2 separate regions of the Homo sapiens genome follow, and region 1 is linked to region 2. The links come from fine-mapping of genetic effects on gene expression. A gene starts in region 2. The other region holds a variant in brackets. All regions are shown on one strand. Distances are between the middles of the regions.

The links. PIP is the estimated chance that this variant, and not a neighbour inherited with it, causes the effect. A credible set is the group of variants that fine-mapping cannot tell apart.
Region 1: its variant is the best candidate, but not a certain one, in a credible set for the expression of WDR36 in whole blood (INTERVAL, PIP 0.85).

What each region holds. Positions count from the first base shown.
Region 1 is chr5:111,132,820-111,138,200 of GRCh38, reverse strand. No RefSeq gene overlaps it. Among named protein-coding and RNA genes, the nearest start is that of WDR36, 43 kb to the right of the region's middle. The variant C/T (reference allele first, on the strand shown) is at 2,905.
Region 2 is chr5:111,089,182-111,094,562 of GRCh38, reverse strand. It overlaps WDR36 (WD repeat domain 36), which reads right to left and starts at 2,215. Exons shown (of 23, transcript NM_139281.3): 1 at 1,945-2,215. The coding sequence starts at 2,106. RefSeq lists an enhancer at 1,926-2,365.

The DNA of each region.
Region 1 (5,381 bases), 44 kb before region 2:
TTAATTCCTACTTGTGAAAATCAAGGTTACTAAGTTGTTACTTGGTCTTGAAAATATTCTTTTTTTTTTTTTTCTGAGATGGAGTCTCACTCTTTTGCCCAGGCTGGAGTGCAGTGGCTCTACCTCAGTTCACTGCAACCTCCGCCTCCCGATTCTTCTGCTTTAGCCTCCCTAGTAACTGGGACTATGGGTGCACGTCACCACGCCCAGCTAATTTTTTGTATTTTTAGTAGAGATGGGGTTTCACCACATTGCACTGGCTGAGAAAATATTCTTAACTAATAGAGAATTGTTTCTCCTTTTAGGAAAACACAGAGCAAGATGTTTTTCCCTCTGTGAAGGACAGTATTTTATTATAGCTGCTGCTGTTTTTGCTACTAGAAGTTTAAGTGTGAAAACTTCCCAGTGTGTTGCGAAGCTGGGCAGCCAAGGGGAGGATTGTCCTACTTTTGACTCCCAACACTTTGTGAACACTATTCTATGCTTGGGGAATTCCCCATTTACAGTCTCTGCTTCCTGAACTCAGAACCCAAAACCTTCGTCTCTCAGCATTGGGTATAGGCCTGAGCCCTAGACTGTTCTAATGCACTAACATTACAATATGTTATGCACTACATATGCATTACAATATGGATGCACTAACATTACAATAGGAGTTGTAAGTGCCATGGAGAAGCAGATGCTGTGTGGACTCTGTTCAGTGAGGCATCAGGGACAGAGGTTCCAGTATCTAGGGCCAGTATCAGCCATGTGAACCTTGGGATGTTCTAGACGTAGTTCTCAGCCACGAAGTCTTCAAGGGACTTGGAAAAACCCTTAATGTACTTAAATAGTAGTTTCTGCTGAAAATAACTAAAACTGGTTCTGAGTAATACATTTCATTATGTTAATTAAAAAATTTTTGTTTATGACCTAATTGTTTTATTCTAAACTTTGCCATCTAGTCCTAATTGAACTCAATAGGTGACTGATCCAACTAAATCTGAGGTTGAATGGAGTTTTAAAACCTGAGACCAGCCCTGACCTCACTGGCTCTCTCAGAGGATGAAGAGCAGTACTGATTCATATTCCATGTCTTGGAACATCAGATTTAAGGCATTTTCAGAGATAAGCATTGGGTATTAGTATATGCTAGCACCTCTTGGTAAGGCTATGTATTTCTCTAACCAATCAATTGGTGCAATGATTCTCAACATTTTTTGTCTAAGGAGCCCTTCACTTTCTAAAAAATTATTGAGGATCTCAGTGTGACATTAATTATATCTGTTGATATTTCCTGTACTTGAAATACTGTGAGTAAACACAGTTTTATGAAAATAGTTTTTAATCATATTTTGCTGACCATCTGGAAATATTTGAAGGACCCCTAGGGAACACTGGACAGACAACTCTTAGAAAACCACTAAATTAGGTATTTATGGAACACTTGTGTGCACAAAATTGAGATGGGCTCTATAGCAAATTTGGACATTTAGCTGATGGCAGACAATGGGAATGAGACTTCCACACTGGCACAAAAGGAGGAAACCAACCCATCAAGGGCATTAGAGATGCAGGCAAACAGTGACAGACACTTTCCTGCATGATCTAAGTTTACCCTAACTGTCTCTGGGCAGTGCTATTTATTGAGGAGTTTTGCTGCAACAAAGGCTATGAAAAAAAAAGGCCTTGTGTTTCATAAAGGAATAATATTTTAAGGATTAGTATTTTTTTAATAGATAAAACTGGTTTCAAGTGACACAAAGTATGGTGTATTTGCTGCATGATTGTCATTTCCCAGCAGGATGAGAATGGTAATTTCCATCTTTGAGTTCTGGTAAAGGGTAAAGAGATAAGCTAATGTGAGATTATGTTTTTCTTCAACACTTAGTTCATGTGGAATCAAGTGGATTATTTCTATTTGTCGCTGAGAGTGAAACTCTCCACCCTGATGTTCTTCGTGCTTTCTGGGAAATCTCAGGCAAGTACCACACCATTGAGATGAGGATCTCTTCTGCCAAGAGCCACCCTTTCCACCACTCCCTGGAGAAATCTCTGACTCAGTCAAGCTAGGTGACTCAGAACTCCCTCGGTTCCTCTGCCTTCCAATTCATGCCAGCTGGGCACAGAGAGAAAGAGACAGGGCTCAGTGCTGACCTGGAGACCATCTGCGCCTCATAAAGACCCAATGCCAGGGACTTGCATCGAAATGAATGTGGTTAGGTCAAGTGGTGGCCTGGAATTTTGGGAAAGGTCCAGTGACTTGGGTGGCAAACACAATTGCAGCTTCCAAAGGCCACCTTCCAGAGGAAATAAGATCTGGTCAGCCACACAAGATATATCTACGAAGTAGCATGAATGGATGGATGGATGAATGGTTAGAGATGTGTAAATACATTCTATTTGAAAAGCTAGACAAAAAAAAAGATTGAAATACAATTAAAAAAAACTAAACTAAATATAGAGTATGAAAATATATAGACATCAACACCTAGAATCAATAGTAGTTGATGTTTTATCTTATTTTGTTTAATTTAAAATTACACAAAACATTGCAGATAAAGTCTCCTTTGTACCCAGTTCCAGGGCCACTGACCTCTACACATTCCCAGAGGTAGCAGCTGGCATGACTTTGGCCATCCCTGACTTTCTATTGCCTTTCTCATGGCCTCATCTCTGAATGCTGTCCTGTCTCTCTCTGTAATACCATGCCCCTCCCACCCCCTTTGTTCAAGATCAATGGCAGTTGTCCTCTTTGTGCAGCCTGCCCTGGCTCCGAGAAGGCAGATGTGTGCTGCCTTTCCTCCTGCAAGGCTCATCTCCTGGACTGGGGGTCAGGCACCCTGTCTCATGTGTGTTGGGATCTCCATCTTGCCATACCCCATACACGATTATTTAGGAGGGAATGGGACAGGTTGAGAGAAG[C/T]ACACAGTTCCACAGGCACCTTTTTCCTCACGTGTTGTAGCTTACATTTTTGAAGTACCTTCACTTCACCTCCTTGTCACCACAGCAACAGAGATGAACATCTCATCTCTGCCCCCTGCCTCCACCTTTCCACGCAGTGTGCCAAGAGCTAAAACTGCACCCAGGCCCCTGGGGGGTGGCCCTCAGCTCCAGGAGCCACGTCTGACAAACTACAAGGCTAATTCCTAGTCTCTGCTTCCCTATGCCTGGCCATCTATTATCAGCCAGAGAATGGAGAGGTGGAGTCTTCCAAGGGAAAAAAAAAACCAGTTTTTTTTCCTCCTTAATTGTTTTACTTCTTCATATGCACTGCTTTTCTAAGTTACCAAGCCCTTTGTTAAAACAAGAATGGTAGTGAAGCAGCATGCAGGCATTTTTTTTTTCATATGGAGGCTATTTGGGAATTCCTGTACACACACACAAACACGTGCACACACGTGTGCGTGCACACACACACACACACCCACGTATGCCACATTTTGAAATAAAGGGAGAAACTCCTGGCAGTCACTCTTTGCAGAGTGTGAAGGCCTAGAAACATCTTCTTCTTTATCTTGATTCTAAAAGAGAGCAAGTCAAAAGGCTAAGCAAAAGAATATAAAAGAATAATGAGCTAAAATACAAGCTTCATAGGACCGGGATTTTTATATGTTTTGTTTTCTAAAGTATCTCAAGAGCATAGAACAGCATCTGAGACAGGGTCAGAGCTAAGTATTTGTTGAAGATAGAATGAATAAATCAATGATTGAAGGAAGGAAAGAGGAGTGATCACAGCGCTGTGAGCTGGGTGGGGAGGCTGTCGGGTATGTGACTCCTTTGTTTGGTATATGATGCTTCTTGTAAACTAAATCCACATGGTTAAGTGAGTCCAGGCTTCGATAACTCACTCTCACCCACCATTCAGTCACCCAATGGGCTTGCATCATATTTACTCTAGAGAATAGAGTGTGGCCAGGAGTGAGGAAACAGGGCCAGAGTTATGAGGCAGACATCATACTTGGAAAGTTCAAATGAGAAAAAATAAATTAATAGTAAAGACTGGAATTTAGCCAGAGATAGTGGGGGAAAAAAAGGGCAGCCAAACAAAACAAAACAAAACAGAACAAAACCCCCGGCTTTGAAATATCCATTCTTGGCTGTGGTAGCAATAAACAATATTGCTAAAAATTGTTTGCAAGGATTTATGGAATTTTTGTGTTTTCAGAGGACATTAAACTATTGTTATCTACATGTCTGCAGTGTCAATAAATCACTAACAACACAGAGATAAAACTAAGTATTGAATATTTTACGTACCTTTTCAGAGACATTTAGTAGATTCAGCTGGAAATGGAAATTAGCATGGTTGGAATTGGGAAATTCAGCATATAGTACACAGATACTGAAAGAAAGATCCCTAAAGAATATTTTATATATCAAAATGATTAAATTTCATCTTGAGCCCTCATATTACTAGATTTAGGGTAGGGAACAAAATTACCAATTAAAAAGTATCTCAGTCTCTTTCACATTAGCCTAGTCTCTTTTGGATAAATATTTTGTGAGATTTTATGTTCAAATTCCCTACCATGTCTGTTTCTTTCCTCACAAAGGAAGGTTCACTATGTGTGAGTGCCTTCTGTGTTGCCAGACCCTCTTCTCACCTCCCCCGACCAGGACCACAGTCCCACTTAGCCTGTGCCCTGAGTCTCTGCCTATCTTCCAGCTGGGCCCTGGGCCAGGATGGTGTGTCCACACTCTGCCACTGGGGCTCTATGGCAGGCCTGTTGGCATTCTACTCCCAGCTGCCTCCCTCATTCCCCTCAGGGAGCAGGTGGAAACCTCCAGATCCCTCCCAGTGTCACCCACAGTCATGGAAACTCTGTGAGCTGTCACAGTCATTTCTTGCCACCTAAGTTAAGTCACACCCCTTGACTATGGCCACCATGTGTCAGGATAGAGGGCTTGTGAGCCAGTCTCCTCCAGGGGAGTCAGGACCTAGCCCCACAACTCTGGAGTTCCACTTAATGTACCCAGTGATTTCTCCAACTAACCCTCCATCCCCACTTCCCCTTTTACTTCTAGATCTGGGGCCAGGGCCTACAAAATCTTTAACCCTTTTGCTCACTTTCCTTCCTTCAGGTTTCTTCCTAGAACCAAGTGGGAACATAGGTGAGAACCTTATGCCTCATAGCCTTCTTTTTTCCCTTCTCCAGTTCTAAGTTCAGTTATATTAAGTCACCAAAACGGAGATTTGTTAAAATACATATTGCTGGCCCCTACCCACAGAGTTTTTATTTCAGTAGTTATGCAGTGGGGCCTGCAGTTCTAAGTTCCCAGGTGATGTTGATATTGCTAATTGGGGAAACACACTTTGAGAACTACTGACCTATACTGTGACCTTCTCTAATATCACTGCTCCCTTTCCCTTGCAATAAGTCCCATGGCTTAGCCTTAAT
Region 2 (5,381 bases):
ATCTATAGATACTGAAATTTGATTTTCACATAGTTTTCATGTCATGAAATATCCTTCTCCCTACCCCCAGCCTGCCCCCACAAACATTTAAACATGTCAAAATCATTCGTAACTCCTGGGTCATACAAAAACAAACAGTGGGCTAGACTGGCTTACAGACTGTAATTTGCTGACCCCAATCATGGCTACTGATCCAGCTGTATGACCCTGGAAAAATAAGCTCCCTGTGCCTCAAATTCTTCATCTGTAAAACAGGTATTTATTTACTTTATGGGATTGTTATGAGGATTCAATGAGTAAATTTGTGTAAAACAGAATGGGGCCAGTCATATAGTAACTGCTCAATACATGATAGCTACTACCATCACTACCACCACCTATTCACAACTTGTCTAGTTTCCCCTGTAGAAGAAACTAATCTGTAGGACTGTAGGAAGTCTGACTGGGGACAGCATATATAGCCATAGTCATGGGATAGAGCACTTGTAGACCCAATTAGTGACTTAGGTTCATTAGCTCCTTTTTTTTTTCTTTTTACTCCCAAGTATTTTCAGTTTTAGAGGTCACAGCCCAATGCATTGGTTAATCTGAGCAGTGTACAGTCTGGGTAAAGAACATTTACATGCCATGATGTTACGAATGTATCATCAGTGTTAGAACTAGAGGAGAACTTAAAAGCCATCTTTATTATGACTAAATGTCAACACACAGTAAGTAAATTGTTAACTTTATAAAATGTACAAATATGTTACTCTCCTCACCACAGGGTTTCTTTGGAAGTAGAATATAGGGAAAAACACCTGTGTCTGTGTGTAATGCAGTGTCAGGAAAGACACTGTACCAAAGACAAGATTTCAAGAGTTATTTCAGTAATAAACTCAGAAAAATTACATTTCAAGGAAGAAAACATTAACCAGCAAAAGCAAAAGTTAGCAAGCAAGGAACAAGTGCAGAGAATGGTAACACTAAATACTTTCACATGATTAATATGGTTCTAACCCACCCTGTCTCCATTACCAGCTCAGACTCTGAGAAACCCAATTGCTCTTCACCTCAGCTCTGCCCTCACTTTCCTTTTCCACTAACTCAACTAGTTCCTACCTCCCAGCTCTTTTTGCTAATAAGCCATTTGATATTCACAATCCTCCAAGAGAGACAACTCTACCTGTTTTCCAGAAAAGAAAGTACTTAATTAACACTGACTATTATCATCCTCCTCATCAAGGTTTCTGTTCTCACAGAGGTTACATTCTTTCGGAGAAGACAAAAGAAACAAGTAAACAAGAGACACTATTACAATGATCGATGAACTGTTATAGGAGAAAAAATCATCACTAACAAGTGATTTATCTGAAATTTACTTTAATAGATTATATAAAGGTGCTACGGTATAATGACACCTATGTTGCAAAGAAACGGCTGCAAGGCTTAGAGTGACAGTGCCAGACACTTTGCGTTAGTTGAAAATAACTGATTGCTATTAGATATTTTCCCTAACGGTAATTAATCTCACCATCTCCGGTTCTCCCAATGTATTCTACCTAGAGTGAATTTCTAACTCAGCTCGTGTCACCAATAACGTAATAGCGTGCATGTTTTTCTCTCTCATTAAGAATGCAAGAGGTAGAGGTTTGTCTTAATTATGTTTCCACCTTCAAGGGAAGGTCAATAAATATTCACTGAACAAATATTACTGCCATACAACTGAGATGTTCTCTAGCAGTTTCCCCTTGGCCAGGCTGCCTCTGAAACACGCCCCAGGAGGACTGCAAGTGCCAAATCAGCACGTGGACGTGACCGGATGGCGAAATATTAATAGGACAGGGAGGGGTTAAAGAAGGGAAGCCCGTGGTAAATGGGAAGGGAGAACCGGACTGCTCCAGGACAGAGTTAGAGGCCAAGGAGGGTGGTTTTCCTGGGAAGCTAACAAAAGAAGTCACTCACGTCATAGGTGTGGAAACTCTTGCCCACGCAGGTTGTTACATAGAACCGGCGCTTGAGCGCGCTGAACCGCACCACGTGTGGAATGTCGTTGCTGAAAAGTCCCAAGGCCCGGAACCCCGCAAAAAGCGCGCTGGCCGTGCGCCTTTCTGAGGCCCGTTCCATTGCCGCCGCGATCCCAGCTCCTCTCAGCTCTGGTCCTGAAGGAAAACACGTACCCAGTCCCTTCAGCGTGTCTAGTGGAACAGTCCTCTGCCAGAGCTGCAGACACAACACCGCTTCCGGCGCCCGCTGCGAATCGCGTTTCCGGAGACTGCCCTCAGTGCAACACATAAAGTTCTCCCTCCAGAGCTCACATGGGAGGCGTGACTTGGGTTCCGAGGGCCAAGGTCTCCAGCACGTTGCCTAGCATTGTTCTCCAGCTCTTTTGCGGTGGAAGGAAGCTCGTTAGGTTCCGACAGAACCGCAAGGGCGGGAAACAAAGAGGGAAGCGCGACGCCCAGGAGAATGGAGGGGAGGTCGACGCCTTGGAGATGGAAACGATTTAAACATGTGATTATTTAAAAATGTACAAAAACATGAGACTGGAAAAATTTAAACACTGGATATCTGATGATATTAAGGAATTATGTTTCATTTTTACATATGATAGTAGCATTATGATTACGTTTTTAAAGATCCTCATCTTTTGGATACATATTGACATATTTACAGATGAAAACTATAATGGGACATTTCAAAACTGACAGAGGGATTCACTCACAGACCCTCTGGGGAGTAGAACTAATTACTTGTGGGGAGGGAACTGCTCACTTGGGCAACTTGGATAAGTGTAGATTCCTCCCAGAAAAGGAAGATAAATATTAAATGTTATTGGGATTCCTGGATTAAGTCAGTATTCCTTGAGGTCGGCTGTCAAAAGCAGACAGTAGAGGTTCTAAAGAGGAGCTTATCATAATGCAAACGGGAGTCCGGGCAGTTCATTAGAGCTGAGTGCCTTAGGATGCTGAAGGAGACTGATTCCAGTGAAGTGGGTGTCAAGACGCCTCACTCCTCAGGAGCCAGCTGCCTTACCAAGATGTAGGTTTGGGGAACAATCTCTGAGCATGTGAACATTAACTAAAACAGTGGTGAGCTTAGAGCCCAGGACCAAAGTTCAACATATGGAATAACCTCTTCTCTTACTGTTTTATTTCCATTTCATTTCGTTTATGAAAACGTTTTGGCAGCCTATTAAGGTTTGGGTCGAGTGACTAACGTAACTATACTAGTACTTGAGAGGGATAAAAAGGGTATATTTACTAATGTAAATGTACTTGAAAGAGATAAAGAGGGTCTGTCTCTACACAGATCAGTGTACTCTCTCGGGTTCCTTCCAGTTCTAAAATGTAATTATTATGAAACAAAAGTCACTTGTTAGCTAATTTGAATACCTGACTCATACATTCTTGAACAAAAAAAATCTTGATTTATTTTATAGTTCTTGGCACAAAGCCTCAAACACTTTGGATGTTAAGATCATTAAGGGGCAGATGCTAACAGAATGAGAGCTTGTTATTTAGTCCTTGACATGTTGTACTTACTTGTATTTTCATTTGTACCCCGGATTTCTCAATAGCAGTGCACATTTTCAGCCATGTTTTTGGTATGACTTAAAAGTGAACAAGTTGCTAATTATTTGTAAATGTTCTTTAAATTAAAAAAGAGGGGAGAGGGGAGGAGCCAAGATGGCCGAATAGGAACAGCTCCGGTCTACAGCTCCCAGCGTGAGCGACGCAGAAGACGGGTGATTTCTGCATTTCCATCTGAGGTACCGGGTTCATCTCAGTAGGGAGTGCCAGACAGTAGGCGCAGGTTAGTGGGTGCGCGCACCGTGCGCGAGCCGAAGCAGGGCGAGGCATTGCCTCACTTGGGAAGCACAAGGGGTCAGGGAGTTCCCTTTCCTAATCAAAGAAAGGGGTGATGGACGGCATCTGGAAAATTGGGTCACTCCCACCCCAATACTGCGCTTTTCCGACGGGCTTAAAAAACGGCACACCACGAGATTATATCCCGCACCTGGCTCGGAGGGTCCTACGCCCACGGAGTCTTGCTGATTGCTAGCACAGCAGTCTGAGATCAAACTGCAAGGCGGCAGCAAGGCTGGGGGAGGGGCGCCCACCATTGCCCAGGCTTGCTTAGGTAAACAAAGCAGCTGGAAGCTGGAACTGGGTGGAGTCCACCACAGCTCAAGGAGGCCTGCCTGCCTCTGTAGGCTCCACCTATGGCAGCAGGGCACAGACAAACAAAAAGACAGCAGTAACCTCTGCAGACTTAAATGTCCCTGTCTGACAGTTTTGAAGAGAGCAGTGGTTCTCCTAGTACGCAGCTGGAGATCTGAGAACGGGCAGACTGCCTCCTCAAGTGGGTCCCTGACCCCTGACCCCTGAGCAGCCTAACTGGGAGGCACCCCCAGCAGGGCACACTGACACCTCACACTGCAGGGTACTCCAACAGACCTGCAGCTGAGGGTCCTGTCTGTTAGAAGGAAAACTAACAAACAGAAAGGACATCCACACCAAAAACCCATCTGTACATCACCATCATCAAAGACCAAAAGTAGATAAAACCACAAAGATGGGGAAAAAACAGAACAGAAAAACTGGAAACTCTAAAAAGCAGAGTGCCTCTCTTCCTCCAAAGGAACGCAGCTTCTCACCAGCAACTGAACAAAGCTGGACGGAGAATGACTTTGATGAGCTGAGAGAAGAAGGCTTCAGACGATCAAATTACTATGAGCTACGGGAGGACATTCAAACCAAAGGCAAAGAAGTTGAAAACTTTGAAAAAAATTTAGAAGAATGTATAACTAGAATAACCAATACAGAGAAGTGCTTAAAGGAGCTGATGGAGCTGAAAACCAAGGCTTGAGAACTACGTGAAGAATGCAGAAGCCTCAGGAGCCGATGCCATCAACAGGAAGAAAGGGTATCAGCAATGGAAGATGAAATGAATGAAATGAAGTGAGAAGGGAAGTTTAGAGAAAAAAGAATAAAAAGAAACGAGCAAAGCCTCCAAGAAATATGGGACTATCTGAAAAGACCAAATCTACGTCTGATTGGTGTACCTGAAAGTGATGGGGAGAATGGAACCAAGTTGGAAAACACTGTGCAGGATATTATCCAGGAGAACTTCCCCAATCTAGCAAGGCAGGCCAACGTTCAGATTCAGGAAATACAGAGAATGCCACAAAGATACTCCTCGAGAAGAGAAACTCCAAGACACATAATTGTCAGATTCACCAAAGTTGAAATGAAGGAAGAAATGTTAAGGGCAGCCAGAGAGAAAGGTCGGGTTACCCTCAAAGGGAGGCCCATCAGACTAACAGCGGATCTCTCGGCAGAAACCCTGCAAGCCAGAAGAGTGGGGGCCAATATTCAACATTCTTAAAGGAAAGAATT